7 linked regions of the Homo sapiens genome follow. The protein of the gene in region 5 purifies or fractionates together with the protein of the main gene of each other region. This does not show direct contact. Each region holds a gene or a part of one and is shown on either strand. Other genes may lie near its edges. The genes, in order: OXA1L, PCYOX1, HSDL1, GALNT7, SLC35F6, SPTLC1 and KDSR.

Region 1 (4,659 bases), on a different chromosome or scaffold from region 5:
TCCAATTAGCCTACTTCTTTCCATTTACTCCCTCAGCCGTCTGGCTTTTACTCATATCACCTCATTCGAACTGCCAGTAACATAATTGCTAAATCCACTCCTGTCAGCTTTTTGTTTGAGGAAACAAACAGGATTCCTAATCATCTGCTTAGAGAAGTTAATGCCATACTTTTGTGATGCCAAATTAGAGAACTGAGCCTTAAAGCAACTAATTCATTCCCCTGACCTTATTTCTGGGCCTCTTAGGCATGAGTCATAGAATGGACAAGGCAAGAATAAGACCCTTTCAGTAAGGACCTAAAAGCCTTCAACCTTCTAGCTGCAGAACTGCTTTAATTTCACTCCAATCCTAGTTTGTATTTTCCAGGTACAGTCTTTGCCCGCTGCCTGATTTTTCCTCTCATCGTGACGGGCCAGCGAGAGGCAGCCAGGATCCACAATCACTTGCCAGAGATCCAGAAGTTTTCCAGTCGAATCAGAGAGGCCAAGTTAGCAGGAGACCATATTGAGTGTGAGTCAGTTGCAGAATGAGCGTGGGAGAAGTCCACATTTGCACTTTTCCTTACATTCTGCTGGGGGAAAGGAACAATGTAAATCAGAAGTTGCCACAGTCGGGAAAGTTCTAAAGGTTTATCTGTTTCTTAGACCTAATGCTCCCAAGGAGTGGCCAGGGTTGGTTAGAAATTTCACAGGCCAGGTAGATAATGAGGATGTTCACCTCCACTGATGTAACTGTTACCCCAACCATTAATTTCCCCTCACCTCACAGATTACAAGGCTTCCTCGGAGATGGCACTTTACCAGAAAAAACATGGTATTAAACTCTATAAACCTCTCATTCTCCCTGTGACTCAGGTGAGCAAAAACATTTCCTTCCTTATTTCATCCAGTACCCATGAAATTTCCTCTCTGTGTTTCATGTGTCCCAGGTCCCCCAAAAAACAGGTGGTGGTGGATTATACATGGCTTTCAGTAGTGGGGTGATGAAAATGTTCTCTCTGGTAAAGCATGCTGACACTGTTTATCTTGTGTAATAGGCCCCAATCTTCATCTCCTTCTTCATTGCTTTGAGAGAGATGGCCAACCTTCCTGTGCCCAGCCTGCAGACAGGTGGCCTCTGGTGGTTCCAGGATCTCACGGTATCCGATCCCATCTACATATTACCACTGGCAGTCACTGCTACAATGTGGGCTGTTCTTGAGGTAAGCCCAGATTGGCCAAGTGCCAGGCCTGCAAAGTGAACTGGGGTTGGAGGGTAAAGTAGTTGTACAGAATGGTCATCCTTCACTTGCTGGAGAAAGAGTTGATGGGTAAGAGATTAGAGACAGATTCACTGAAACTGACAGCTTTCCCGACTTTTCCACCCCACTTCTTTTGGCAGCTAGGTGCTGAGACAGGTGTGCAAAGTTCTGACCTTCAGTGGATGAGAAATGTCATCAGAATGATGCCCCTGATAACCTTGCCCATAACCATGCATTTCCCCACGGTATGTAATGCCTTATGGGCTGGCTCCAAGGCCTTCTGCCTAGCCTAGCCACCTAGCAAGCTGACCAGGGATACAGCTTCTGAGTCCCTTCTCTGTGTTCTCACCCAGGCAGTGTTTATGTACTGGCTCTCCTCCAATTTGTTTTCCCTGGTCCAAGTATCCTGTCTCCGGATTCCAGCAGTACGCACTGTACTTAAAATCCCCCAGCGTGTTGTACATGACCTGGACAAATTACCTCCACGGGAAGGCTTCCTAGAGAGCTTCAAAAAAGGTAAGGGCTCATCCTCTGTGAAAAAGGACTAGGGAAAGGGGTCTAAAAATAGGAATGCAACTGACTCTCTTGCTTCTCTTTACACAGGCTGGAAAAATGCTGAAATGACGCGTCAGCTGCGAGAGCGTGAACAACGCATGCGGAATCAGTTGGAGCTAGCAGCCAGGGGTAAATAGTCCTTTCAGGCCAAATTCTGTCTTTTGTTTCTTCCTTTCTGTTCTTCGTTGAAATTTGTTTTCTCTTCTCCCCTCAGGTCCTTTACGACAGACCTTTACCCACAACCCTCTCCTACAACCTGGAAAGGATAACCCTCCCAATATCCCTAGCAGCAGCAGCAAACCAAAGTCAAAGTATCCCTGGCACGACACACTTGGCTGACTTATGTTCTGTGCGCATTCTGGCAGGAATTCTGTCTCTTCAGAGACTCATCCTCAAAACAAGACTTGACACTGTGTCCTTGCCCCAGTCCTAGGAACTGTGGCACACAGAGATGTTCATTTTAAAAACGGATTTCATGAAACACTCTTGTACTTATGTTTATAAGAGAGCACTGGGTAGCCAAGTGATCTTCCCATTCACAGAGTTAGTAAACCTCTGTACTACATGCTGCTTCCTGATACTTATTGAACAGGGAAATCAGTGTGCACTTCAGAAAACTGAAGAATACCCAGCATTTTGGGAGGCCGAGGTGGGTGGATCACCTGAGATCAGGAGTTTGAGACCAGCCTGGCCAACATGGGGAAACGCCATCTCTGCTGTTTTACAAAAATAGCCACACGTGGTGGTGCACACCTGTAGTCCCAGCTACTCGGGAGGCTGAGGCAGGAGAATTGCTTGAATCCGAGAGGCGGAGGTTGCAGTGAGCCAAGATCGCACCACCGCACTCCAGCCTGGGCAATAGAGGGAGACTGTCTCAAAAAAAAAAGAAAACTGAAGAATAGAGTGAGTCATGATTGCTTTTGCTGGCCCATGGCCTTGGAAAATATAATGTTTTAACCTGGCATTAAGGGTTTAAACTTCCACCCAGGCGCAGTGGCTCACGCCAGTAATCCCAGCACTTTTGGGAGGCCAAGGCGGGCGGATCACGAAGTCAGCAGATCGAGACCATCCTGGCCAACATGGTGAAACCCCGTCTCTACTAAAAAAAAAAAAAAAAAAATTAGCCGGGCATGGCGGCGGGTGCCTGTATTCCCAGCTACTTGGGAGGCTGAGGCAGGAGAATGGCGTGAACCCAGGAGGCAGAGCTTGCAGTGAGCCGAGATTGCGCCACTGCACTCCAGCCTGGGCAAGAGAGTGAGACTCCTTCTCAAAAAAAAAAAAAAAAAAAAAAAAAAAAAAACAGTTTAAACTTCCAACCCATGCATGTGTTGTTCTATGCACATTTGGATTGCAGTCTAGAGGTGTGGCTGATAAGTTGAATGTTGAGATTGTATCTAAATATAGTAACCGCACTTCTTGATCCCAAGATTACTTTAAAAATTTCAAGAAGTAGATGTGTGCAAATTCTTAGTGATAATTAAGAATGAAAGTTCCAGGCTGGGCAAAGTGGCTCACACCTATAATCTCAGCACTTTGGGAGGCTGAGGTGGGTAGATCACTTGAGTCCAGGAATTTGAGACCAGCCTGGGCAACATGGCGAGACCTTGTCTCTGCTAAAAAGTTAGCTGAGCATGGTGGTGCTTGTCCATAGTCCCAGCTACCTGGGAGGCTGAGGTGGGAGGATAGCTTAAGCCCAGGAGGTTGAGGCTGCAGTGATCCAAGATCATGCTGCTATACTCCAGCCTTGGCTACAGAGCAAGATCCTGTCTCAAAAAGGAAGTTCATGTCATTTTTATGTAACAATCCAACATTTGACTAGAGCAGTTTAAGTGTTCTGTTGTCTGCCTTTGTGTAGAGCCTGGTTTATCAGCCTTCAGCAGCTAGCTTGAGAGAGAAAAGATGGATATACTTTCAAGCATAAGATTGATTTTAGTCTTTGTGTTTCTAGGCTAATGGGAGCTGTCCTAGAGATAGATACTATATAAAATGAAGCCACTCAGACTTTAGGAACATAAACTTTTATTGTCATCCAGCACCTGTGATAGTTTCATGTCTCTCTAAAGGAGACAGGAAATTGGAGCATTGTGGGCCCTTTTAAAAGAAAAGAGGAGTAGGTAGGCACACCCAGGTGCTTCTAAAACAACCAAGCCCAAACCTGACATGCTCCTCCCCACAGTCACCTTCATTGTCCCCTTTAAAAGTCTGGAACAGTATGTAGCAAAACAAATAAATTACTTTTCATTTCAAAAAGTAAGTTCAAAGGTTGAAGCTGCCTAGGCCAGGCTTCTGGACAGGTGCCTCCAAAGAAGTGAGCTTTCCTTTTCAACTTCCTTAGCTCTAGCCAGTAGACCAGAAACCCCTGCTTTCCACATCAGGATTCCAGATGGTGTTTAGTTAGATTTGGGATCCCGTTGCTTGGGCATCTCTCCTCCATCTTCCAAATCCATTTCTGCAGCAACTGACATACACAGGACCTGGAGGTACCTTGTGGCAGACCCTACAAAGAGAACTTTGAGTTGGAATTGAGAAGAGGTCAGCTGGGCTGAGTTCAAGTGTCACTGAATGGAACTCAGTGTGAGGGGAGTGATTCCACTAAGCCGAAGGGTTCATAAGAAGGGGCTAAGGCAAAGATGTCTTTGGAGGCTGGATTTACAGAAAAAGGCAAAAACCAAGCTCTGCAATAGCTGAGCGGACTTAAGGATGCACGGCTTACCCACGATCCTTCGGAGGTAAAGCGGTCGCTTATGTTCTGGCACTCTGATGATGAGGAAGTAAAAGGGCAGGCCTGAGAGGGCAATGGCAATGCCGATGAGGGAGTTGATAGTATCACTGTAAAGTGGAACAGCCACCAGGAAGATGGTGC
Region 2 (4,304 bases), about 43 Mb from region 5:
ATAGTTCATCTTTAACATAGCTACTGCGCTCCAAAATTGAAGTCAACACAGTCATTACTACAAATTACTTGTTGAAAGAATCTATCTTCAAAAGAAAGAAAATTAGGAAAGAGAATTTAAACGATTCCTCCAAACCATACATTTATAAATATTGTCATATTTAAAATGCTTGAAAGGCGTGAATTCTCCATTAATGGAAAAGCAGTTTGCTATTGGCAACAGAAAAAAACTCAGCGATAATTTACCAAATGCTTTAAAATTTAAAAGCTATACTGTTTGGATTCACACTTGCGCAGTAATCTTGTCATTACAACAACTGCAAATTGCTTTGTACTCACCTTCTCTCAAGTAAAATCTAAAGAAAACCCCACCGTATCCAATGTTTGTAATGTTTACTTCAAGTGAATCTAAAAAATTTCTAAATTTAGTTTATGGTAAATACCTCAAAATACCTAAAAATAGGTACGTATCAACCACTTAAGGGTGTGAAAATTGTTTCAGATTCACTGCTTTAAAGGGTCTTCAAATATATTTTCTTTAACAGAACCTTACTTCATTCCAAATTATTATCAGATATTTCAAAATAAAAAAAAAGTATCAGTTCTATACCAAGATAAAGGTGTTACTCAATACCTGAAGGTTCACATTTTAAATTTATTTTTTAGTTTTTCTTTTTTGTCAACAAATGATTGATGAAATAATGCAACACCCTTAAATTCCAGAAAATGGCATGGTTTTTCCAACCTCCTGTGGATATGGTGCATGATCAATCTATTATATAGGAGCCTGGCTAATTTTTAATTTTTTTTTTTTTTTTTTTGAGAGGGAGTTTCACTCTGTCACCAAGGCTAGAGTGCAGTGGCACGATCTCGGCTCACTGCAACCTCTACCTCCCAGGTTCAAGCGATTCTCCTGCCTCCACCTCCCAAGTAGCTGGTATTACAGGCATGCGCCACCATGCCCAGTTAATTTTTGTATTTTTAGTAGAGGTGGGGTTTCGCTATGTTGGCCAGGCTGGTCTCAAACTCCTGACCTCAAGCGATCTGCCCGCCTCAGCCTCCCAAAGTGCTGGGATTACAGGCATGAACCACTGCGCCTGGCTAATTTTTACATTTTGTGTACAGACAGAGTCTTGCTATGTTGCCCAGGCTAGTCTTGAACTCCTGGCCTCAAGGTATCCTCCTGTCTTACTCTGTCACCCAGGCTGGAGTATATTGGCTGGCTGTTCACAGGTGCAACCATAATGTACTACAGCCTTGTGCCCCTGGGCTTAAGTGATCCTCCCACCTCAGCCTCTTGAGTAGCTGTGACTACAGGTGCATGCTGCCTCACCTGGGTGCTGTTTTTTAGTAGTATTTATTCTGTTTTTTCATTTATTATTATTATTTTTTTGAGATGGAGTCTTGCTCTGTCATCCAGGGTGTAGTGCAGTGGTGTGATCTTGACTTACTGCAACCTCTGTCTCCTGGGTCAAGCAATTCTCATGCCTCAGCCACCTGAGTAGCTGGGATTACAGGCATGCACCACCACACCTGGATAATTTTTGTATTTTTAGTAGAGATGGGGTTTCACCATGTTGGCCAGGCGGTCTCAAACTACTGACCTCAAGTGATGCTGCCCCACTTTGCCTCCCAAAGTGCTAGGATTACAGGCATGAGCCACCATACCCAGCAGTGTATTTATTCTAATACGATTAGTTGTATCATGAAACAATTAGAGTGCTCTCTGTTTATATTGTGTATATAGTTTCATCTCACCGCTGCCACCCCGCCCCCTCCCAGGGAGACTTGCTTGAGTGAGGTTGCAGCTCTGGCAGGAGCAGTTGGGGAATATGTTTTTTATAGCATCATTAGTAGCTTATTTAATTGACTGTTATTTTCTCATGTTGACCATTAGCCAAAGATCACTCTTCTTTGGATATGAGATATCCAGGCTATTATTTTTCTGAAGAATTCAGTGTTTCCATCCTACTTTTTCCAGTCTCCTAAAGACTGGGACCCAAATGCTATGGTTAGAAGGTATTTAGTTTCTCAGTTTTGGCATAGATATCGAATCAGTTTTTCCAATAAAAATGTGTTTAACATTTTGTACACTTATACTACTACTATGCTTTTAGTAGGTAATACTGAAATGGTTATAATACTGTCCCTTGTTCTGTAAAAAAATATAGTACATTTTGAGAGAAAAACTTGATGTGAAAGTTTCCCTTCCATGATCAGTGATAGGGATCTTTCCTTGGCTCTTAATTTCTTATTTTCATATACTTATCTCTGCATGTGCCTTATTACTTATCCCTAACTATAAGCCCCTTAAGGGAATAAGAGATAAACCCCGTATTACTTATCCCAAACTTAAGCCTGTTTTCCATCTTTGTACTATTTGCAACATGAAAAATTGTGTTTGAATTACTGAATGCACTAATTTATGTGAATGTTGTTTTAAATCCATAAAATGCAGAGAAGTGTTGGGTGATATTTTTCTTTTTGGTCAAGTGATGTTTTCTAAAAAATAATAGAAAGCATCTAATTGTTGAATGAGTGGCATTGGTGCTAAGTTTTATGAGGCTTCTGGAGATGATATAACTGTGGACTGGGAAGTTGAGCAAGACTTTTCAGAGAAGGTGGGATTCAAGTTCTGTTAAGGAAGAATAGATGTTCCATGGTTAGGAATGGGAAGTGTATTCAGGTTGGAGGGAAGAGCTTGTGCACTGGTGGGGATACAGCATGTAGGGCAAATTTAGAGACCAGTGAATGGGTCAGGTGTGCTCCAGTGGAGACTGTGCATGTGTGGGTGATTGACAGCAGAGTGGGCAAGTTGTGATTGAGCCTTATACTTGCCATGTGGCCTTTAGACAAAGTATTTTACTTCTACTTTTTTTTTTTTTTTTTTTTGAGATGGAGTCTCGCTCTGTTGCCCAGGCTGGAGTGCAGCGGTGTGATCTCGGCTCACTGCAACCTCCGCTTTCTGGGTTGAAGCGATTCTCCTGCCTCAGCCTCCTGAATAGCTGGGATTACAGGCGTGCGCCACCAGGCCCAGCTAATTTTTGTATTTTTAGTAGAGACGGGGTTTCACCATGTTGGTCAGGCTGGTCTCAAACTCCTGACCTAGTGATCTGCCTGCCTTGGCCTTCCAAAGAGCTAGGATTACAGGCATGAAACCACCGCGCCTGGCCTTACTTCTACTTTTTATTTTTCCTTTTTCTTCTTCTTTCTTTCTTCCTTAGTTTCTTTTCTTTTTTTTTTTCTTTTTTTTTTTTTAAGAGACACTGTCACTGTCTGGCCCAGGCTGGAGTGCAGCGGCATTATCACAGTTCACTGCGGCCTTGAATTCCGGGGCTCAAGCAGTCCTCCTGCCTCAGCCTCCCAAGTAGCTGGGACCACAGGCATACACCACTATGCCTGGTTAATTTTTGTATTTTTAGTAAAGCTGGGGTTTTGCCATGTTGGCCAGGCTGGTCTTGAACTCCTGACCTCAGGTGACCTGCCCACCTCTGCCTCCCAAAGTGTGGGGATTATAGGCGTGAGCCACTGCACCTAGATGTCAGTTTGATTCTTATGACGCCACTTCCCTTCTTTATACATCCCCTTCCCCACATCTTGTTTGGTATTTAATGGATTTCTCTTCTTTTCCAAAGGATCTACCGCTACCAGTCTCATGACTATGCCTTCAGTAGTGTCGAAAAATTACTTCATGCTCTAGGAGGAGATGACTTCCTTGGAATGCTTAATCGAACACTTCTTGAAACCTTGCAAAAGGCCGGCTTTTCTGAGAAGTTCCTCAATGAAATGATTGCTCCTGTTATGAGGGTCAATTATGGCCAAAGCACGGACATCAATGCCTTTGTGGGTAAGCCAGGGCTTGAAACAGTGGTGGACATTAGTTCACAGAGGGGCTTACCTGATGCTATGGTGGTTCCTGACTTTAGGCTGTGGATTGGAGGCTACTTTTCTCTGTGAACCTCAGACATTGTTAGCAAAATTGTGCGTATGTAGATGTGCATTTTTAGGGGGAGAGGGTCTTTAGCTTTCATTAGTTCAGTAATTCTTAACTGGGGGAGATTTTGCTCCCAGGGGCCATTTAGCAATGTCTAGAGACATTTGGAGTAGAACATGTAATTGGGAAGGGAGAGTGGGTAGAGAGCCTCTTACAAAAAGTCAGAATTAAAACACATTTTTCCTCCTATTGACAGGGGCGGTGTCACTGTCCTGTTCTGATTCTGGCCTTTGGGCAGTAGAAGGTGGCAATAAACTTGTTTGCTCAGGGCTTCTGCAGGCATCCAAAAGCAATCTTATATCTGGCTCAGT
Region 3 (4,073 bases), on a different chromosome or scaffold from region 5:
GGTAATGTGATTGGTGGGTATTTGTTGTGATTGATTGGTGGGTATTGTGATTGATTGGTGGGTGTTTGTGATTGGTAGGTATTTGTTGTGATTGATTGGTGGGTATTTGTTGTGATTGGTGGGTATTTGTTGTGACTGGTGGGTATTTGTTGTGATTGATTGGTGGGTATTTGTTGTGATTGGTGGGTATTTGTTGTGATTGGTGGGTATTTGTTGTGATTGGTGGGTATTTGTTGTGATTGATTGGTGGGTATTTGTTGTGATTGCTTGGTGGGTATTTGTTGTGATTGGTGGGTATTTGTTGTGATTGGTGGGTATTTGTTGTGATTGATTGGTGGGTATTTGTTGTGATTGCTTGGTGGGTATTTGTTGTGATTGGTGGGTATTTGTTTGATTGGTGGGTATTGTGATTGGTGGGTATTTGTTTGATTGGTGTGTATTGTGATTGGTGGGTATTTGTTATGATTGATTGGTGGGTATTTGTTGTGATTGGTGGGTATTTGTTGTGATTGGTGGGTATTTGTTGTGATTGATTGGTGGGTATTTGTTGTGATTGGTGGGTATTTGTTGTGATTGATTGGTGGGTATTTGTTGTGATTGGTGGGTTTCATGTGCTGGTCTGTGTACTTGTTCCTTCAGTGTTGATTTTGGGTTCTAACCTTACAACCTTTTTCTCTTTCATTTTTAGTTTCTTTTTGCACAGTATATGCCTGAATGGCTCTGGGTGTGGGGAGCAAATATTCTCAACCGTTCACTACGTAAGGAAGCCTTATCCTGCACAGCCTGAGTCTGGATGGCCACTTGAGAAGTTTTGCCAACTCCTGGGAACCTCGATATTCTGACATTTGGAAAAACACATTTAATTTATCTCCTGTGTTTCATTGCTGATTATTCAGCATACTGTTGATTCGTCATTTGCAAAACACACATAATACCGTCAGAGTGCTGTGAAAAACCTTAAGGGTGTGTGGATGGCACAGGATCAATAATGCCTGAGGCTGATTGACGACATCTACATTTCAGTGCTTTTTCCCTAAGCTGTTTGAAAGTTACGCTTTTCTGTTGTTCTAGAGCCACAGCAGTCTAATATTGAAATATAATATGATTTGTCAGGTCTTATAATTTCAGATGTTGTTTTTTAAGGGAAATTGACCATTTCACTAGAGGAGTTGTGCTGGTTTTTAAATGTGCATCAAGAAAGACTACTGAAAAGTATTATTTTGTAACTAAGATTGCTGGTACTATTAGGAAAAATCTGTGTGTATTGTATAGCTCTAGCTGTTTGACTATCTGTAATGAAAATGCTGCACTTCAACTGGTATTTCATTAGAGAACCGTGTGTGTGCGTGTGTGTGGTGCCTTTGAGCAACTTTATTTATGGTTACCATATTTTTAAAAAGATTTTTTGTCAGGGTGACTTAACATGGACTCTTATAGGGTATTAAAACAATCTAGATTATTCCTTTTCATCCTAAATAAGCCTACCAAATTTCATGCTGTTGGTTTGCCATGAATGATATTACTTCCTACATTATATTTGTGTTTTTTCAAATCTGCTATGGAATGAACTTATTCCTAGATTTGGATATGTAAGAGAAACCTGCAGTCATCTTTTGATTTATAAGGCAATTCTTGTGGATAAATAGTGATTTCTCAGCCTCTGACCCATTTTATAACTGAAATTTAGCCCTTTAGAGCTTGTTATATCTGGTTTTCCTACGTTTTTCTATGTAATATTATTCCATTCCAGTAGCATTATTGATAGAAATAGTAAGTATTTATGGAATAGTAAAATATGGACAAATTACGTGTGTGACATATCTGTCAATATAAGTTAGAAGCTTATTCTTGGTTTGTGTAATGAATTTATGTATTGTAGTGAATACCTTTACTGGTGTGAAGATAATTATGCACAAACCCTCACAATACGCGTTAACATTGAAACCTGTGAAATGTCCTTAGTTTGGGTCATATAAAGCCAACCATTTTTGAGGACCATGTACCTAGTGCTTTGAAAACTCTAAGTCACTATATGAATATGACAATATGTGCACATTTAAAATTCAGAGCTCGGCATTGTGATACTGATGCAGAAGCTAGTAGATTGGTTAAAAGTCTGGACTTCTGTGGCATTTTTTTCGTGACGTGATAATCTATCATAAGCAGACCTAAGCACAGTTTTATGAACACAATTTTGCCCATGACATTGCCTACAGGATTTCCAGATGTGACTTGCACTCAGAAGATCAGTGGTCAACTTCAGAAGCTCTTCCACGCTTAGATCATGTCTTCAGAACTTAGATGTGAAAATCTACACACTGGGAGATGCTGTGAGCCCCAAGGTTTTGATGGAGTTTGCTTGGAATCCTCTTGACTTCATGCCACATTGACGTGAACTTTGATGTATAATAAGCAGCAGCAACTTCATGTGAAAATATGGTCAGGTAGTTATATGTAAGGTTACGTGGTCCAGTAATGTCTTAGATTGATAAATTAGGTATGGAATCCATCAGTGTTACGTGATGAGAATAGGTGAACACACCTTGTCAGTGATGATGTAAACTTCTCTCCTTGGCAGGACATGGGCAAACATGCTGATTGGTGCAAATGTGGTGCCGAGCTGTCCATAGCTGCAGTGAAAGATGAAGAGCAAGACCTTCTCTAGGTTTTCTAGCTTTCATTAAATGTATTTTTTTCCCCAGAGCTAATTTGAAAGTTGATTGGACCACTGTGGATGGGGTGTCATTAAGAATGTGGGAAATAGGGGCCGAGTGCGGTGGCTCACACCTGTAATCCCAGCAGTTTGGAAGGCCAGGGCAGGTGGATCGCTTGATCCCAGGAGGTCGAGACCAGCCTGGGGAACACATCCTGTCTCTACAAAAAATACAAAAATTAGCCAGGCAGGGTGGTGCATGCCTGTAGTCCCAGCTACTTGGGAGGCTGAGGCAGGAGAATTTTTTGAGCCCAGGATGCAGAGGTTGAAGTGAGCCAAGATCGTGCCACTGCACTCCAGCCTTGAGACAGAGCGAGACCCTGTCTCAAAAAAAAAAAAAGAACGTGGGAAATATGAACCTTTGAAAGTTAATCTGTGAATTGAAAGTTTAACAATAAAAGTAGTTGTTTGTTTCCTTTGGAAGAGTTTTGTTCCAGATGTTTGTAATTTGGTTGTTTGTAATTTGGAATGAGAGAATTTTTTTTTCTTAGGAGTGATTGCAAGAAATTAACATGAACAACAGTGGTCATAACTGATTAAAAGCTGACACGTCAGTAACAAAATTGTTTATAACTATGTGCCTAGTCTTTGGAAGCTACTGGGTTGACTTCTGGATCTCTTTCTCTTGGTAGGTTGAGTAAGGTGAGGATTGATTTGAGCATGGAATTTGGCTGTGTGGATGGAGATCATTGGTGATTTTTTTCCATGAGCCATTTCAGTCTTCAGGCTAGAATTGTAATGGATTCAAGAAAGAGTGGGAAGAAGAAAAAAAGGGAAGAGAGCAGATAGAGACAGCTCCTAGGAGACTTTCCTGTGTTTTCCTATCCTCAATTACTTAAAATCTAATCACATTTGGGAACCAGAGGGTTAGATGGTTATGTCCTCAAAACCTATTCCAGTCAATTTATGTCTCAGTCTCAGTATTGGCTTATGTGTTATTTATCTTTTTAAAAATTCATATATGTTTAATGAGTATAAAGCCAAGCACAGGACAGTCGTGAATTCAGTAGAAATATTCTCTGTTATTCCTGGCCGCGTGCAGTGGCTCACGCCTGTAATACCAGCACTTTGTGAAGCCGAGGCGGGCGGATCATGAGGTCAGGAGTTTGAGACCAGCCTGACCAACGTAGTGAAACCCCGTCTCTACTAAAAATACTAAAATTAGCCGGGCGTGGTGGCGCGCCCCTGTAATGCCCGTTGCTCAGGAGGCTGAGGCAGGAAAATCACTTGAACCCGGGAGGCGGAAGTTGCAGTGAGCTGAGATCGCACCACGACACTCCAGCCTGGGAGACAGAGCAAAACTTTGTCACAAAAGAAAAAAAAAAAAATATTCTGTGTAATTCCTATGGTGAGACTGAAA
Region 4 (4,304 bases), on a different chromosome or scaffold from region 5:
ACTCAGAGTCACAAGGACAGTGTGGGCATGGGGGTGGGGGGTGGACTGGTGGTAAATCATTCATGGAGGATCCACCCCATGAACCAGTCACCATCCACCAGGCCCCGCCTCCAACATTGGGGATTATAATTGGTCCTGAAATTTGGGTAGGGACACAGATCCAAACCATATCAAGTGGTAATATCGTATGTTCTTTTATCATGCTGCTTATAACAGCTTTTTTTAAACCCATGGGCTTTTGTGACAACAATGCATCTAGGGGCATGTTCACCCTTTGATAGTTATCTTGTTGCCTAGAAAACATTTAATCTGAACACTAGGTATTTCTTTTTTGAATGTAAAACATGGGTCGGCCACATGGCTGACAGGCCAAATCCAACCCTTTTTAGTAAATCAAGTTGTATTAGAAGATAGCCACACTCATTTGTTTGTGTATTATCTACGGTTACTTTCTCACTACAATAGCAGAGTCAAATAGTTGCCACAGAGACTGTATAGCCCAAAAAGCCCAAGATACTTACTATCTGGCCCTTTATAGAGAATATTTGCTGATGCATGATGTACAAGATTAAGGGATTGAGTATTATTTTAGTTCATTTAGTGTTGCTACAACAGAACACCTGAGGCTGGGTAATTTATCAAGAAAAGAGGTTTATTTATTCACGATTCTGGTGGTTTGAAAATTCAGGCTTGGGCAGCTACATCTGGTGAGGGCCTTATGCTGCTTCAGCTCATGATGGGAAGCAGAAGGGGAATGCACATGTGCAAAGAGATCATCACATGGCGAGAGAGGAAGCAAGAGAGAGACCAAGGAAGCCAGACTCTTTAACAAACTACTCTTGTGGGAACGAATCCACTTCTGTGAGAGCAAGAACTCACCCCCTCACCTCCATAGGAGGCCATTAATGTATTAACAACCCAAACTCCTCCCAGCAGGCCCTGCCTCCCAGCATTGCCACATTGGGCATCACATTTCAACATGAATGTTGGCAGAGACAAATCACATGCAAATTATCACTCAAGTGTGTACCAATTTGGTCACATATATTCATGCAACCATTCATTCATCAATTAAAGCTTTAAAAGCTAGATATTTGTCAGCTATCACAGTGTCAGCATATTTTATTGCTCTATAGCTGCTTTTTCTTAAAGTGAACCAACTGGGGTCGGGGGCAATGGCTCACGCCTATAATATCAACACTTTGGGAAGCCAAGGCAGGCAGATTGCTTGAGGTCAAGAGTTCAAGACCAGTCTGGCCAACATGGTGAAACCCCATCCCTACTAAAAGTACAGAAATTAGCCAGGTGTGGTGGCGGGCACCTGTAATACCAGCTACTCAGGAGGCTGAGGCAGGAGAATCGCTTGAACCTGGGAGGCAGAGGTTGCAGTGAGCCGAGATTGCGTCACTGCACTCCATCCTTGGTGACAGAGTGAGACTCCATCTCAAAAATATATATTTTTTTTAAATTAAAGAAAGGAACCAACTGGGGAAAATACCCAGTCCATTTGGGGTTATAGTAAAATAGTTCTATTATAGTTATAACAGGATCAATAAAATCACCTGCAAAAATGTGTTTTATTAAACAGAGCTTTTGTTTCTCATGATGGTTTCTGAAATGATATTTTTTTCCCTACACTTATCAACAGAACGATTCTAATAGAAAGAGATTGTAGGCCAGGCACAGTGGCTCACACATGTAATTCCAACACTTTGGGAGGCTGAGGTGGGAGGATCTCTTGAGGCCAGGAGTTTGAGACCAGCCTGGGCAACAGAATGAGACTCCATCTACACAAAAAAATAACAAAAATTAGCCAGGTATAGTGGCATGTACCTATAGTCCTAGCTACTCGGGAAGCTGAGGTGAGAGGATCACTTAAACCCAGGAAGTTGAAGCTGCAATGAGCCAAGATTGCACCACTGCACCCTAGCCTGAATGACAGAGCAAGACCCCATCACAAAAAAAAAAAAAAAAGAAAAGAAAAGAAAGAGATTATTATAGGGAAAGAAGTACAGTGTCCAGCCAAGCTCTCATAAACTCTCTCTGAGATTCAATTTATTCTTCTGTTAGCAGAATAGAATACATTATCTCAGCATATATGATCTTCCAGCTCAGGGATATCAGGTTTTGTACAATACTTTTTACTTAAATACACATGATATTTTAATCCTTGGCAGATGACATATTAGAGTCATTAACTTGCATTTGTTGTTTAATTAAATGCCAGGTCCTGTTGAAATGAATTTGTTATGTGTAGGCCATTTTCATGTGTCTAATATAGGCTGTTTATGATATGACATTTGTATTTTTATAACGATATATATATATATATTTTTTTTTTACAGAATTATGTTAGAGTTGTGGAGGTTTGGTGGGATGAATATAAAGACTACTTCTATGCTAGTCGTCCTGAATCGCAGGCATTACCATATGGGGATATATCGGAGCTGAAAAAATTTCGAGAAGATCACAACTGCAAAAGTTTTAAGTGGTTCATGGAAGAAATAGCTTATGATATCACCTCACACTACCCTTTGCCACCCAAAAATGTTGACTGGGGAGAAGTAAGTAGTCACATCTCAAAATGTATGTGTTTGTAGACTGAGTTTGGGAGAAGGCAGAGAGAGGTGGAAATATGTAAGAGGGAAGTATTCTTGGGGAAAAGTTGGGGTAAAAACTGTCTGATAGGATCTACCACCTTTCCACTAAACAGCTATAGCTGCCAGACCAGCTGGCCACCATGCTGTCTCCTGGCAGCCTTTGCTCATTGGCCCCCTAGCCTGCAAGACATCCACTCTTCACTCCAGCTCCTGGCGCCTCCATGCCTCTTACTCCAACTCCCTTCCTTAACTAATTTCAATTTATCTTACTGCTCTCAACTTAGAGATCACCAATACTGAAAAGCCCTTCTTACTATTCCCCACTTCATCAAAAAGATGCAGTTCTATGTTCTTTCCAGGGGTTCTCACAACACCCAAAATCACCTATCTCCCAACCAGTCTGAGTGCTTCAGGACCTTGATCACTTGTGTCCAGGTGGACTGATGCAGGGACCCATATACAGTAGATACTCCAACAATGCTTTTCAAATGAATTAAAAATAATTAAAATCAGACAAAAGCACTTTGACAATCAGACATTGTCATTTCTTTGTTTATTCAAACTTGTCTTCAGACTCACTTCTGATTGCTCCCTGCAGCCCCGCTGTATGCCTCACAGGTACACTAAACCTGCCATGAACGTTCAAGTCTACATCCCTCTGCTTAATTATGTTCAGCAAATATTGGTTGAGGGCCTACTATGTGCCAGTCACTCTTCTAGACAGAAAACCAGAGAAGCAAAGTCGTTTTTCTCAGGGAACTGGCATGCTACCTGGGGAGAGAGACCAAAAAAGTCTGAGAAAACAAAAATGATAATGACAGATGGTGATAAATGATAATGACACATAATACTGTCAAGAGGACTTAAGGGCAGGGTAAGGAAAGCCTCTCTGAGGAGGTGACATTCGCTCTCAGATCTGAATGATAAAGAGTCAGCCAATCAGAGAGTGGAGATGAAGGGAAGCTGACCAACTGCGGAAGCATAGTTCATCTGGGAGTGGATTCCTTATGGGTTGGTGTGTGAAGGGATAAGGGCCAGAATGACATCGAGGTTGTTTTGAGTAGCTGATTAGGTGGCTGCTGAGATTGGGAAGATAGTAGGGGAGTGAATGGAGGGGGCAAGGCTTCTGTTGGTGTTCTGGGCATGTGAAGTACCTGCTAGGCGTCCAGGTAGAGCCATTAAGGCCTACTGATCATAGATTGTAGGTTGTATGATGCCAAAGTCCAGAAGAGAGGCCACTCTGGAGATGTGCATTTGGGGCCATCAGCAGGTAGGTCGTTTCATGGGACTGAATGAGGTCCCCGAGGGAGAAAACACAGATAGAGAAGAGAAGACTAGACCCATCCGTCAGAAACGCCAGCATTTAGAGTTCAGGAATAGAAGGAAAAACCAACAGAGGACACTCATGCTGCTCTCTCTGTACTTCTTGCTTTAATATACTTTTTCCCTATACTCTTATTTTACCTGTCCTATTACAGCAAATTATGTTTAACTCCAACTAGACCATAAGCCTTTCAACACACAGATCTCTCTCTGAGGGCCCAGACAAGTATATCCAACTGTATGCTTAACATCAGGACTTGAATGTGTAACAGGCATTTCAAACTCGACATAGCCTAAATTGAACTTCCTATCTCCTCCCCCCAACCCATCTTTGCTGATTTCTTGGTCAAAAACTTTGGAGTCTTCCATGAATCCTGTCTT
Region 5 (4,304 bases):
GACAGAGCGAGACTCCATTAAGAAAAAAAAAAAAAAAAGACCAAGGATTACAAAAGAAGTCAATTAAATTGAAATACAGTTATCAAACACTTAAAAAAGCAAATTCGTGATATAGAATATATATAGATATGCTTTTTTTTTTTTTTTCTGAGACAGGATCTTGCTCCATCACCTAGGCTGGAGTGCAGTGGTGCAATATCGGCTCACTGCAGCCTCTGTCCCCCAGGTTCAAGTGAGTCTCATGCCTCAGCCTCCTGAGTAGCTGGGATTACAGGCTTGTACCACCACGCCCGGCTAATTTTTGTATTTTTAGTAGAGACGGGGTTTCACCATGTTGGCCAGGCGGTCTCGAACTCCAGACGTCAAGTGATCCACCCACCTCAGCCTCCCAAAGTGTCGGGATTACAGGCGTGAGCCACTGCGCCCAGCTATATAGAAATGCTTTCTACTACATTGTTATAAGTGGGTCTGACTACTGTAATGTTCATGAGTGATGAGTGTAAATGATACCTCACGATATATACAATGACTGTAATGTGATCATGAGAGTATCTGTGATTTCTGTGCATTACAGAGGCACAGACACAGTGACTTGAGGAAATGCCAAGTTAAAACTCCTTGAGGTGAAGACTGACCCCTTTGAGAGGGAGCCCCACTCTGGGGCCGGGTCACCCAGGTCTGGGCCTCTTGACATTGAGAGGTGTGAGCCTCTTCACTAGCACCAGGGTAGGATGCTGACAGGGTCTGACCTTCCCTCTCTCTCCTACAGATGGGCGGACAATTTCATGGCCGAGGGCTGTGGAGGGAGCAAGGAGCACAGCTTCCAGCATCCCTTCCTCCAGGTATCTGGCCCTGTCCCTCCTACCTCCTGTCTCCCGGGCCTCAGACCAGGCGCCACCCCCGGCCATGAGGCCAGGCTGTTTCCTGACTTAGGAGTGGAGGTGTCTCCTGCTCCCAGAAGAGCCATCCACTTCTCTCTTTCCCTCCCCAGAGCAGAATCCAAGGTTTAGAATAGGGCAAAGAGCACCATCCTCTGCGAAAGTCCTGGCAAGTGGTCATGTCCTCACCACATCCAAGTCAGGACACGTGGAAAACATCAGCCCTAGTGACAAAAGTCAGCTCTCTATCCACTGGGAGCCCAGACCCCAATTGGGACAGGGCAGACACCATAAATGGAAGACACTGTTCGTTGAACTGAGAATCAGGAGACTCAAATGTCAGCCCCAGCTCTACCAGCAACTTGCTTTGTGGCCTTACATAAGTCTTTGAGCCTCTCTTGGGTCTAGGCTTCTCCACCTGCGATTTGACTAGGGGTTGGCCTAGATGGATGGTTTTCAGACAGGGCTCTGCACAGCCTTAGGGTTCATCAGGATGTATGGGGGCTTTGGGGCAGACCTAGGAGGCTGTCTCTAGCCTCCATGGCAGCTCTGCATTTGTCTATTTTACATATTGGGGTTCTGGGTAAGCTCTTGTTTGACAAAAGTTTGCATTAAAAAAAATAGTTAAAGATGATCCCCGAGATCCCTTCCAGCTCTGAAGTCCTCGGGTTTTCATCCCTGCAGGCAGTGGGCATGTTCCTGGGAGAATTCTCCTGCCTGGCTGCCTTCTACCTCCTCCGATGCAGAGCTGCAGGGCAATCAGACTCCAGCGTAGACCCCCAGCAGCCCTTCAACCCTCTTCTTTTCCTGCCCCCAGCGCTCTGTGACATGACAGGGACCAGCCTCATGTATGTGGGTGAGTAACCAGGCCAGGCTGAGAAGGGCTCAGGGGAAGCTGTGGCTGAAGGGGCTACTGGTGAAACAGCCCTATCCCACCCACCTCCACTTCATCCCACCATTCCCCCAGACTTCACACGCACAGGCACACAGGCAGGACTGATCGAGCGCTTACTATGAGCTTGGCATGTCTATCACCAAAGACCCCTTAGTGACAGATGGCCTTCGCCTTGGGAAGCTAACTGTAATTTGTTTCTCCTTTCCTAGCTCTGAACATGACCAGTGCCTCCAGCTTCCAGATGCTGCGGGGTGCAGTGATCATATTCACTGGCCTGTTCTCGGTGGCCTTCCTGGGCCGGAGGCTGGTGCTGAGCCAGTGGCTGGGCATCCTAGCCACCATCGCGGGGCTGGTGGTCGTGGGCCTGGCTGACCTCCTGAGCAAGCACGACAGTCAGCACAAGCTCAGCGAAGTGATCACAGGTGCGGCCAGGGGCAGGGACACGGGGCTGCCCTATCCTGCCCTGTCCTCCTTGGGAGCCCAGCACAGACTCATACAAGCTCTGCCATGTGCCATATACCAAGCCCTGGGTGAGGTGGGTAGCTCTGGAGGTGATGGATAGAATGTAGGGAAGACTGCAAAGGGATGTGGCTCCACCAAGGATGAGTGGCAGGCCGGGCAGGGCGAGGGGCTGGCTTGTCCTTTGATACAGATGCAGACATGCAAACTACTGGATTTGGGAGTGGAAAGGAACAGGTGCTTACCAAGTGCCCAGCCTGGTGCTGAGCACTGTGTGTTCATCATCACAGTGACTCCCACAGGCCCCAAACGGATGCATCACAGCCCATTTTACAATGAAATGACTGTCCTGGGTCACTTAGGGTCAGGATCAACCAAGAAATGTCTATCTCAAAGCCTGTTGCTTCTTGAAAGACCTGCGTCATACCCCGTGGGGCAGCTCTTAGACACAGGCAGGCCTCTGGGGCCTTAGCCTGGCACTGCTGGCATGCCCCTCAGGAACCAGGGAATCAGGGACAGGCAGTGGTGACTGTGCCTATGAACTATAGGGGGCCCTGCAGAGGTCAGGGGCTGGCATGTTTGGTCGCTGTGGCCATGCTCTCCTGGCCCCCAGCCCCAGTGCAGCCCTGTTCTCATCTGGGTCCCTCCTTCCCCACAGGGGACCTGTTGATCATCATGGCCCAGATCATCGTTGCCATCCAGATGGTGCTAGAGGAGAAGTTCGTCTACAAACACAATGTGCACCCACTGCGGGCAGTTGGCACTGAGGGTGTGTGTGGGCACAGGGGCCTGGAAGGAGTGGGGTAGAAGGGAGCCTGGGGAGCTGAGCACAGGACAAGGTGCCAGGGTTCACTTGTGGGGGGTGAACTTCCTGCCCCGCCTTGCCTTCCAGATGTGTTTTGACAAGTCTTCTGACACCTGCTGTGTCAGGAACTAGAGGAGACCAAGGACAGAGATGAATGAGATGCAAGCCCTTCAGAGGAGGTGACCAGCAGGAAGAAAGGGCAGTCAGTGAATTCAAGTTTGGACCACTTGTGCTCAACTGATGTCTCATTGGCCATGCCTATCTGAGTCTCTCAGGGCAGGGAGGGTGGCATTCGAGCTGCAAATTTCAACAGGCAGTAGTAGGAGCAGCTCCAAACAGAGCAAAGGCACAGGGGACTGGATGTGAATTTGAAAACCAGTGAGGAATAATTTTGAGTGTGGCCAGGTGCGGTGGCTCATACCTGTAATCCCAGCACTTTTGAGAGACCAAAGCGGGTGGATCACTTGAGGTCAGGAGTTTGAAACCAGCCTGCCCAACATGGCAAAACCGTCTCTACAAAAAATACAAAAATTAGCTGGGCGTGGTGGCGCATGCCTGTAGTCCCAGCTACTCAGGAGACTGAGACAGGAGAATCGCCTGAACTGGGGGAGCAGAGGCTGCAGCAAGCCGAGATTGCGCCACCGCACTCCAGCCTGGGCAACAGAACGAGACTCCATCTCAAAAAATAATAATTTGAGTGCAGTATAGGTTTGATGTTGGGGAAATAATCAGGAATTAAGTAGGTCAGGGTCATGTCATTAGAGAACTTTACCATCAGGCAAGTAGATTTAGACTTTAAATGACGGAGGAATCACTGAAAGTTTTTGAGCAGGGAAGTAAGTATCAAAATTATGAGATTAGCAAGATACAGCTGCGCTTTCAAAGAATGTCCTGGGGGCTAGTGCCTGTTGGGGAGCAGCTCTTGTCTGGCCCCCGGTGAGCTAAGGGACTTAGGCAGAATGTGAATTAGCTATATCACTGAGCATGCAGTCTATTTCCACTCATTTCTGTTTTCTAGCAAGACCTTAATGAGTGAAGCAGTGCATGGACTTACCTTCTGGCGCAAGCTCCTTGTCACAGACCAGTAACACACTGAACTAGAAAGCTGTGTTTTTCCAAACTTGTGAAAATAATGTAGTCAGTTGCAGCTGGCAGTTCTTTTTTTAAATGAATAGAATTTTTAAATATCAGAGCATTGTATACTGTAAGGGTAATGTTTTTATGAGTGTGTGTGTGTGTGTGTGTCCATGAACCTGTGCACACGTGT
Region 6 (4,304 bases), on a different chromosome or scaffold from region 5:
TCTAATTGTCCATTGGAGCAGAAACTTAGAGGCAAGAGATCTCTGAGTAAGAAGGTAATGGCAAACTCTATCTGTGGATCTCAGTATTTTTTGCAGTCCCACACACCTGAACCATGTACAGTTTCATACATGTGGGAGATTTATTAGTGACTTGCTCTGAGCAGAGTGTGTGAAGGTGTGTGTTTTTTGAAAAGATCTCTGCCGGGCGTGGTGGCTCAAAGCTGTAATCCCAGCAGTTTGAGAGGCCGAGGTCAGTAATCAAGAGGTCAGGAGTTCAAGACCAGCCTGGCCAACATGGTGAAACCCCATCTCTACTAAAAATACAAAAATCAGCTGAGCGTGGTGGCGGGTGCCTGTAATCCCAGCTACTCGGGAGGCTGAGGCAGAGAATTGCTTGAACCCTGGAGGCGGAGGTTGCAGCGAGCAGAGATGGCGCCACTGCACTCCCACCTGGGTGACAGTGAGACTCCATCTCAAAAAAAAGAAAAGGAGACCTCTCTACCCCACCACCTGGGAACATCATTGGACAAGCTCATAGTCAAATTTTACTTGATCCGATAATACATCAGTGGGGAGTGAGGAGGGAACAGGGTTGCCCCTTTTTTTGGGAGGTGAAGGAAAACGGTTTGAGTTTTTTAACTTTTTGTTATGGAAAAATGCCAACATATAAGAAGGAAACACAGTGGTATAGTGAAGCCCCCTGTACCCTTCTCCCAGCTTTGTTATCAGCATTACATCATTCTTGTGCCATCTGTTCCTCACCCCATCTTCATGATGATGACCTTCATTATAGTTGTTTTGGGTAAAATTGACAGACATTGAATCACATGAATGCAGCCATACAATTTTGACCAGTGATTATACCCATGTAACCCAGGAATGTCAGCCCCATTATGATGTAAAACATTCCCATTTCTTTAGAAAGTCCCTTAGGCCCCTTCCCAGTTGGAGGTTTGGAGGGTTTTGTTTGTGTTTTAATATTCTCAGAGGGCCTAATTAGTTTGTGTGTGTGGCGGGTCACCTAGCTAATGCTGTGAGCTGAAAAACGTCTGAGAGAAGATAGTACTGTTGTTCATCTCAAAATAACCCATCACAAACACTGAGCTTTCAATTCATTCAGAATATTTTTTTAGGAATAAATCTTGTAAGGTGAAAGTGCTGGGGAATATGTAACAGATCTTGTCTTCAGAGTTACTGAAATGTAAGATGTCTGCTTTTTCTCTTTTAAAGAATCCTCGCAAGGCTCGTGTAACTCGGCGTTTCATTGTAGTAGAAGGATTGTATATGAATACTGGAACTATTTGTCCTCTTCCAGAATTGGTAAGCAACCATGTTCAGCTGTAATTTTAATATTTGGACTATTTGACAGATGTGCCTTTTGTTTATGACCGCTTTTAGTGTATAACGTCTGCGTTGCTTTGCGCATTAGGCCTCATAAGCATATTTTGCTCAGATCAGGGAAGAAGAACAACACTGAATGCCAGTGCTGGCCTTCAAAGAGTAATCAAGACTGCTCTGTTGCCCAGGCTGGAGTGCAGTGGTGTGAACACAGCTCACTGCAGCCTTACCCTCCTGGGCTCAAGTGATCCTTCCACCTTAGCTTTCTGAGTTAGCTGGGACTACAGGCACATGCCACCACACCTGGCTGATTTTTCCCTTTTTTGTGGAGTAGGGGTCTCACTGCGTTACCCAGGCTGTTCTCAAACTCTTGGGCTCAAGCGATCCTCCTGCCTCAGCCTGCCAAAGTGCTGGTATTACAGGTATGAGCCACCACACCTGGCCAAAACTTAGCTTTAGCTTTTTTTTTCTCCCCCGCAAGACAGTCTTGCCCTGTCGTCAGGCTGGAGTGCAGTGGCGCCATCTTGGCTCACTGCAACCTCCTCCCCGAGGTTCAAGCAGTTCTCCTGCCTCAGCCTCCCGAGTAGCTGGAACTATAGGCGTGCGCAGACACCCCCAGCTAATTTTTGTATTTTTAGTAGAGACGGGGTTTCACCATGTCGGCTAGGATGGTCTCAATCTCTTGACCTCATGATCTGCCCGCCTGGGCCTCCCAAAATGCTGGGATTACAGGCATGAGCCACTGAGTCGGCCATACGTAGCTTTTAAGATCCAGCTTTATTTAGGTGAAATCAACGTATAAAATACACCTACTTTAAGGGTAAAGTTTGATAAGTTTTGACAGATGTATATACATCTGTATCACTGCAGCCATCCACCACCACAGTCAAGATACGGAATATTTTTATGTAAGACAATGTTTATCCAGAAAGAAAACTTTATCCAGAAAGCTTCCTGATGCCTCTTGGTAGTGAGTACCCATGTTGGCCCCAGACAGCCATTAATCTACTTTCTATTCCTGTAGATTAGTTTTACCTTTTGTAGAATTGCATATGAATGAAAGCATAGCTTGCTTTTTTGTTTTTTTGTGTTTTGTTTTTTGTTTGAGATGGAGTTTCACTTATGTTGCCCAGGCTGGAGTGCAATGGCACGATCTCGGCTCACCGCAACCTCTGGCTCCTGGGTTCAAGTGATTCTCCTGCCTCAGCCTCCCAGGTAGCTGGGATTACAAGCATGTGCCACCATGCCCGGCTAATTTTGTATTTTTAGTAGAGACAAGGTTTCTTCATGTTGGTCAGGCTGGTCTTGAACTCCCAACCTCAGGTGATCCACCCTCCTTGGCCTCCCAAAGTGCTGAGATTACAGGCGTGAGCCACCACGCATGGCCAAAACTTAGCTTTTTAATAGTGAAAGCAGCATAACTGTTTTTAGAAACCATGACCATTGAGATTTCCTTTATTGAGGTGAAATTCACATAACACAAAATTAACCAATTTAAATTGTACAGGACAGTGACATTTATTACATTTACCATGTGTGCAACCATCAACTTTAGGTCAAAAACCTTTTCATGACTCACGAAGAAGACCTCAAACCCATTAAACAGTCACTCCCCATTTTCTTCTCCCTCTAGCTCCCAGCAACTACCAATCTGCTTTCTGTCTCTATGGATTTACCTTTTCTGGTTATTTCCTATAAATGGCATCATATAATATATGACCTTTTCTTTCTGGCTTCATTCACTTGATGTTTTTAAAGTTCATTAACATTGTATACCATGTATCAGTATTTCATACCTTTTTAATGCTGAGTTATAGTCCATTGCATGGATAATACCACGTTTTGTTTTATATGTTCATCCACAGATGGATATTTGGGTTCTTTCTACCTTTTTGCTATTGCAAATAGTGCTGTTGTGAACATTTGTGTACAGGTATTTGTTTGAATTCCTGTTTTCAGTTCTTTTATGTATATATCTAGCAGGGTAATTGCTGGATTATATGGTAATTCTGTGTTTAACTTAATAAGGAACTGACATACTGTTTTCAACAGCGATTGCACCATTTTACATTCCTATCAGCTATATACCAGGGTTACAGTTTCTCTACATCTTTGTCAGCACTTATATTTTCCAGGGTTTTTTGTTGGTTTGTTTTAGCCACCCTAGTGAGCATGAGGTAGTATCTCACTGTGGTTTTGATCCTGTTTCCCCCAAATGGCTAATGATGCTGAGCCTCTTTTCTTGTTTTTTTTTTTGTTTGTTTGTTTGTTTGGCCATGCGTATACCTTTGGAGACATATCTATTCAGGTGCTTTGCCCATTTTTTAAATTGGGTTGTTTTTTTGTTTTTAAAAGAATTCCTTGTATATTCTGGATACTAGATGTTTATCAGATACATGATTTGCAAATATTTTCTCCTATTTTGTGGGGGTTTGTTTCATTTATTTGATACTGTCCTTTGACACACAGTTTTTAAAAATTTTGATGATGTCCAGTTTATGTGTTTTGTTGTTGCTTGTGCTTTTGTGTTTTATTTTAAAATCTTTGTTTAATCTGGCCGGGCACGGTGGCTCACGCCTGTAATCCCAGCACTTTGGGAGGCCGAGGCAGGTGAATCATTTGAGGTCAGGAGTTCGAGACCAGCCTGGCCAACATGGTAAAACCCCGTCTCTACTAAAAATACAAAAAAATTAGCCGGGTGTGGTGGTACACGCCTGTAATCCCAGCTACTCGGGAGGCTGAGGCAGGAGAATTGCTTGAACCTGGGATGTGGAGGTTGCAGTGAGCCGAGATCACGCCAGTGCACTCCAGCCTGGGCAACAGAGCGAGACTCTGTCTCAAAAAAAAAAAAATAATAATAATAATCTTTGTTTAATCCAAAATTATCAAGATTTATTGCTATGTTTCCCCCTAAGAGTTTATAGTTTTCAGTCTTACATTTAGGTCTGTAGTTCATTTGAGTTCAT
Region 7 (4,304 bases), on a different chromosome or scaffold from region 5:
CCTTGGCCCTGAACACTGACTCCATGACTTCACACCATACTCCTTCGTCTATCAGATATTACAGGAATACGGGAAAAAACGGGGCAATTTACAGAGCTGGTGTTTTTCCAATGCTTGTGGGCTTCAGAGAAGGGGGTAAAGACCACAGTCTTAGAGAAAAACTCACATGTGCAGAAGATATACACAAGGATTTTTACTTGCAGCACAGACTGCAATTGCAAAAATAAAAATACAAAATAAAATAAAAAGAATGGAAACAGCTCAATAGCAGGGACCTGACGGAATAAGCTCTGGTGTACTTCAATCCTAGGCTGCAGCAATTTAAGGCAAATTTACTTAATGCACATGGAAAGATCTCTAACATTCTAGAAGGGAAAAAGTCAATGAATACCACAGTGAAATACTATTCAAAACTCATCAGAAAGGCAAAAAGTAAAAAGTCTGTCAATACCAAGTATTGGCAGGGATGTGGCGCAACAGAAACCGCATTCCTACTTATGGGAGCTTAACCACTTTGGTGAGGTTGAAGAACTGCATACACTACAGCTCTGCAATTCCATTTCTGGGTATGTACCATTCTTGCACACGTGCACAAAGAGAATACTGAAAGCTTTTCTAATAGTAAAAAACAAAACAAACTAACAAAAATACTGGGAACAAACTAAATATCCACCAATTGCTGAACTGATGAACAAAATGTAGTCTATACATACAATAGAATACTACGCAGCAGTAAAAAAAAAAAAATTTACTCCAACTTTTTGCAGCAACATAAATGAATTTTTAAAATTATATATATATATACACATATATATACATACATACATACATACATATATATATATATATATATATATTTTTTTTTGAGATGGAGTCTCCCTCTGTTACCCAGGCTGGAGTACAGCGGTGCAATCTCTGCTCACCTCAAGCTTTGCCTCCCAGATCCAAGTGATTCTCCTGCCTCAGCCTCCCTCCTGAGTAGCTGGGGTTACAGGTGCAGCTAACTTTTTATATTTTTAGTAGAGACAGGGTTTCACCACTTTGTCCAGGCTGATCTCAAACACCTACCTTCAACTGATTTGCCCGTCTCGGCCTCTCAAAATGTTGGGATTACAGGCATGAGCCACCGCACCTGGCCTAAAGAATAATATTGAGTGGTCTGGGAATGGTGGCTCACACCTGTAATCCCAGCACTTTCAGAGGCTGAGGCGGGCGGATCACGAGGTTGGGAGTTCGAGACCAGCCTGATCAACATGGTGAAACCCTGTCTCTACTAAAAATACAAAAATTAGCTGGGCGTAGTGACGCGCGCCTGTAATCCCAACTACCCAGGAAGCTGAGGCTTGAACCCAGGAGGCAGAGGTTGCAGTGAGCTGAGATTGTGCCACTGCACTCCAGACTGGGCAACAGAGCGAGACTCCATCTCAAAAATAAATAAATAAATAAGAAATAAATAATAATAATATTGAGTGAAGAAATCAAGTTGCATAAGAAGCATAAAGAAGGAAGTTATACAAATCTATAGAGAAAGAAAGTAGATGAGTGACTGCCTAGCTGAGAAGAGGCTGGGAGGAAATGGCAAGTGACTGCTAATACACATGGAGATTCTTCACGGGGTGAGGAAAACATTCTAAAATTGATTTTGATGACAGTTGCACAACTCTATGAATACATTAAAAATCATTGAATTATATATTTTAAATGGGTCAACTGTATGGTATATAAATTATATCTCATAAAGCTGTTAAAAAATAAGAATGATATAATAAAAGAAGTAGAACTAAGTATATTGGCCAGGCATGGTGGCTCACGCCCATAATCACAGGACTTTGGGAGGCCAAGGCAGGCAGATCACCTGAGGTCAGGAGTTTGAGACTAGCCTGACAAACATGGTAAAACCCTGTCTCTACTAAAAATACAAAAAAAATTAGCCGGGTGTGGTGGCACACACCTGTAATCCCAGCTACTCAGGAGGCTGAGGCAGGAGAATCGCTTGAACCCGAGAGGTGGAGGTTGCAGTGAGCCAAGATGGCACCACTGCACTCCAGCCTGGGTGACAGAGAGAGACTCTGTCTCAAAAAAAAAAAAAAAAAAGAACTAAACAATATATTATTATTTAGAGTTATGTGCATATATGGTAAAATTAAAAAGAAAAAGAGGCAGGGCACAGTGGCTCACTCCTATAATACCAGCACTTTGGGAGGCAGAGGTAGGCGGACTGCTTGAGCCCAGGAGTTGAAGACCAGCCTGGGCAACATGGCGAAACCCCATCTCTACCAAAAATACAAAAATTAGCCATGCATGATGGCACGTGTCTATAATCTCAGCTACTAGGGAGGCTGAGGTGGGAGGACTGCTTGAGCCCAGGAGGTCGAGGCTGCAGTGAGCTGAGATCGCACCCCTGCACTCCAGCCTGGATGACAGATTGAGACACTGCCTCAAAAAAAAAAAAAAAAAAAAAAAGGAAAGAAAAAAGAAAAGAAAAAGAAAGGATTAACACCAAAAATCGGGTTGGCATTTGCCCCTCTAGGAACAAGAAAAGAGGGACAAGGCTGCTGTGGGGGCTTCAGAGACCCTGATCATTTCTACTTCTTAGGCTGGGTGATGGGTGTGTGATTATTAATTTGCTATTATGTTTTATACTGAAATATAAATAGCATTTTATTCATCAAAAATTCCATAACCAAATAAATTTTAAATATTCCTTTCCTCTTAAGCATTTGTATAAAGTTCATTAAAAAAAAAATTAAAATGAAATTATTTGCCAGTAAAACATTCTGTTATTTGACCATTTGTAGATATGAATGTGTGTGGGAGTCTATTCATTTTGCGTGTGTGTGATATTCTGAGTTACTAGACCATTCAAACAATTCCACCTTTTAAAAAACAGTACATATATGCTTTCAATTAACTATTCACAGGTGAAGTAACTCTGTTTTTCCTTTATACAGCTGTGCTGAGTTATACAGAAAATGCATTCTGAAGACAGAGATTTACCTGTTTGTCATTAATAGAGTGCATTTCAATTTCTTTCTTTGCCTGCAGCAGCTTATCCTGAAAGCAATACAGAATAATTAGTCGTGATGACCGTCTATATGCATGTCCGTTTATTGCAAAGGAGAGAAAAAAAGCAATTATTTCTATATGTATGTATTAAATTCCAGAAAACACACAAAACAGTATCTACATTGCATAGACAGACTGGGCCACAGCCTATGAAAGAAAGAAGTTGTGAAGTATGTTAAGCTATGAATAAGTGATAAAAGTTTGAAAATTAATTAGAGAAAGATAGTAGAAAACAGATAAACCTCAAAATCCCAGTTAACAGTACTAATTGCTGAGGCTGACTCTACAGTTCTAATAAATGTCTTATTATTTAGTTGTGATATAAGACAAGAACAACTCTATTAATATGTACTGCTCCCCAAAGTTGAGGGTATGTGTGACTCCCTGTCAATACTGCTTTTTGTCCAATATTTTCTTCTTCTACTATAAACCCAAACATAGTAAGAATCACTTTCTGGATAGACTGGGTAAACTAGGCCTGGCTACTATAAAATACTCTTAAGCAAGGTTACCTGTGTAATTATGTAATTCTTCCAAGGTCCTAATTTTGTTTGTTTTACTTAGTCTCAAGAAAACAGATATCAGATTATCTTAATTTGCTGTAAAAAGTAACTTAAATAATATCATGCAATAGAGAGGAACCAAAGGAGAGGCGAATTCTTCCAAAAGGCATGCAGAGTTTCTAAACCTGAATATGTCTATAATGAAATAATATTGTCCTATGACTAAAGATACATACAGCTTGACTTTGCAAAGACTGGAATTAAAAATTACATTAGAAAAGAAAGAATTTCTCAGCCAGGCATGGTGGCTCACCCCTGTAATCCCAGCACTTTGGGAGGCCAAGGTGAGTGGATCACCCAAGCTCAGGAGTTTGAGACCAGCCTGGGCAACATGGTGAAGCCCCGTCTCTACCAAAAATACAAAAACTTAGCCAAGCATGGTGGCGAGCACCTGTGGTCCCAGATACTCAAGAGGCTGAAGTGAGAGGATTGGTTGAGCCTGGGAGGCGGAGGTTGCAGTGAGCCGAGATTGTGTCACTGCACTCCAGCCTGGGTGACACAGTGAGGCCGGGCGCAGTGGCTCACGCCTGTAAGCCCAGCACTTTGGGAGGCCGAGGTGGGTGGATCACTTAAGGTCAGGAGTTTGAGACCAGCCTGGCCAACATAGTAAAACCCTGTCTCTACTAAAAAAAAAATATATATATATATAAAATATATAATATATATAATAAAAAT

Evidence for each region.
Region 1: the proteins of SLC35F6 (region 5) and OXA1L purify together in Homo sapiens (affinity purification with mass spectrometry; one large-scale study listed by BioGRID and IntAct). This does not show direct contact.
Region 2: the proteins of SLC35F6 (region 5) and PCYOX1 purify together in Homo sapiens (affinity purification with mass spectrometry; one large-scale study listed by BioGRID and IntAct). This does not show direct contact.
Region 3: the proteins of SLC35F6 (region 5) and HSDL1 purify together in Homo sapiens (affinity purification with mass spectrometry; one large-scale study listed by BioGRID and IntAct). This does not show direct contact.
Region 4: the proteins of SLC35F6 (region 5) and GALNT7 purify together in Homo sapiens (affinity purification with mass spectrometry; one large-scale study listed by BioGRID and IntAct). This does not show direct contact.
Region 6: the proteins of SLC35F6 (region 5) and SPTLC1 purify together in Homo sapiens (affinity purification with mass spectrometry; one large-scale study listed by BioGRID and IntAct). This does not show direct contact.
Region 7: the proteins of SLC35F6 (region 5) and KDSR purify together in Homo sapiens (affinity purification with mass spectrometry; one large-scale study listed by BioGRID and IntAct). This does not show direct contact.

Annotation. Positions count from the first base shown.
Region 1 is NC_000014.9:22,769,424-22,774,082, forward strand, and holds the end of OXA1L (mitochondrial inner membrane protein OXA1L), read left to right. Parts: intron 1-367; coding exon 368-511; intron 512-769; coding exon 770-855; intron 856-1,037; coding exon 1,038-1,202; intron 1,203-1,381; coding exon 1,382-1,486; intron 1,487-1,594; coding exon 1,595-1,757; intron 1,758-1,844; coding exon 1,845-1,925; intron 1,926-2,010; coding exon 2,011-2,135; 3' UTR 2,136-3,619; downstream 3,620-4,659. Other genes in the region: SLC7A7 (Y+L amino acid transporter 1), read right to left, coding at 4,187-4,293, 4,510-4,659.
Region 2 is NC_000002.12:70,271,325-70,275,628, forward strand, and holds part of PCYOX1 (prenylcysteine oxidase 1 precursor), read left to right. Parts: intron 1-3,634; coding exon 3,635-3,846; intron 3,847-4,189; coding exon 4,190-4,304. UniProt on the Homo sapiens protein: Prenylcysteine oxidase that cleaves the thioether bond of prenyl-L-cysteines, such as farnesylcysteine and geranylgeranylcysteine. Only active against free prenylcysteines and not prenylcysteine residues within prenylated proteins or peptides.
Region 3 is NC_000016.10:84,121,344-84,125,416, reverse strand, and holds the end of HSDL1 (inactive hydroxysteroid dehydrogenase-like protein 1), read left to right. Parts: intron 1-688; coding exon 689-787; 3' UTR 788-3,276; downstream 3,277-4,073.
Region 4 is NC_000004.12:173,311,613-173,315,916, forward strand, and holds part of GALNT7 (N-acetylgalactosaminyltransferase 7), read left to right. Parts: intron 1-2,345; coding exon 2,346-2,564; intron 2,565-4,304. UniProt on the Homo sapiens protein: Glycopeptide transferase involved in O-linked oligosaccharide biosynthesis, which catalyzes the transfer of an N-acetyl-D-galactosamine residue to an already glycosylated peptide.
Region 5 is NC_000002.12:26,773,482-26,777,785, forward strand, and holds part of SLC35F6 (solute carrier family 35 member F6 precursor), read left to right. Parts: intron 1-769; coding exon 770-842; intron 843-1,562; coding exon 1,563-1,734; intron 1,735-1,982; coding exon 1,983-2,195; intron 2,196-2,890; coding exon 2,891-3,001; intron 3,002-4,304. UniProt on the Homo sapiens protein: Involved in the maintenance of mitochondrial membrane potential in pancreatic ductal adenocarcinoma (PDAC) cells. Promotes pancreatic ductal adenocarcinoma (PDAC) cell growth. May play a role as a nucleotide-sugar transporter.
Region 6 is NC_000009.12:92,052,421-92,056,724, reverse strand, and holds part of SPTLC1 (serine palmitoyltransferase 1), read left to right. Parts: intron 1-1,230; coding exon 1,231-1,320; intron 1,321-4,304. UniProt on the Homo sapiens protein: Component of the serine palmitoyltransferase multisubunit enzyme (SPT) that catalyzes the initial and rate-limiting step in sphingolipid biosynthesis by condensing L-serine and activated acyl-CoA (most commonly palmitoyl-CoA) to form long-chain bases.
Region 7 is NC_000018.10:63,356,739-63,361,042, forward strand, and holds part of KDSR (3-ketodihydrosphingosine reductase), read right to left. Parts: intron 3,055-4,304; coding exon 2,998-3,054; intron 1-2,997.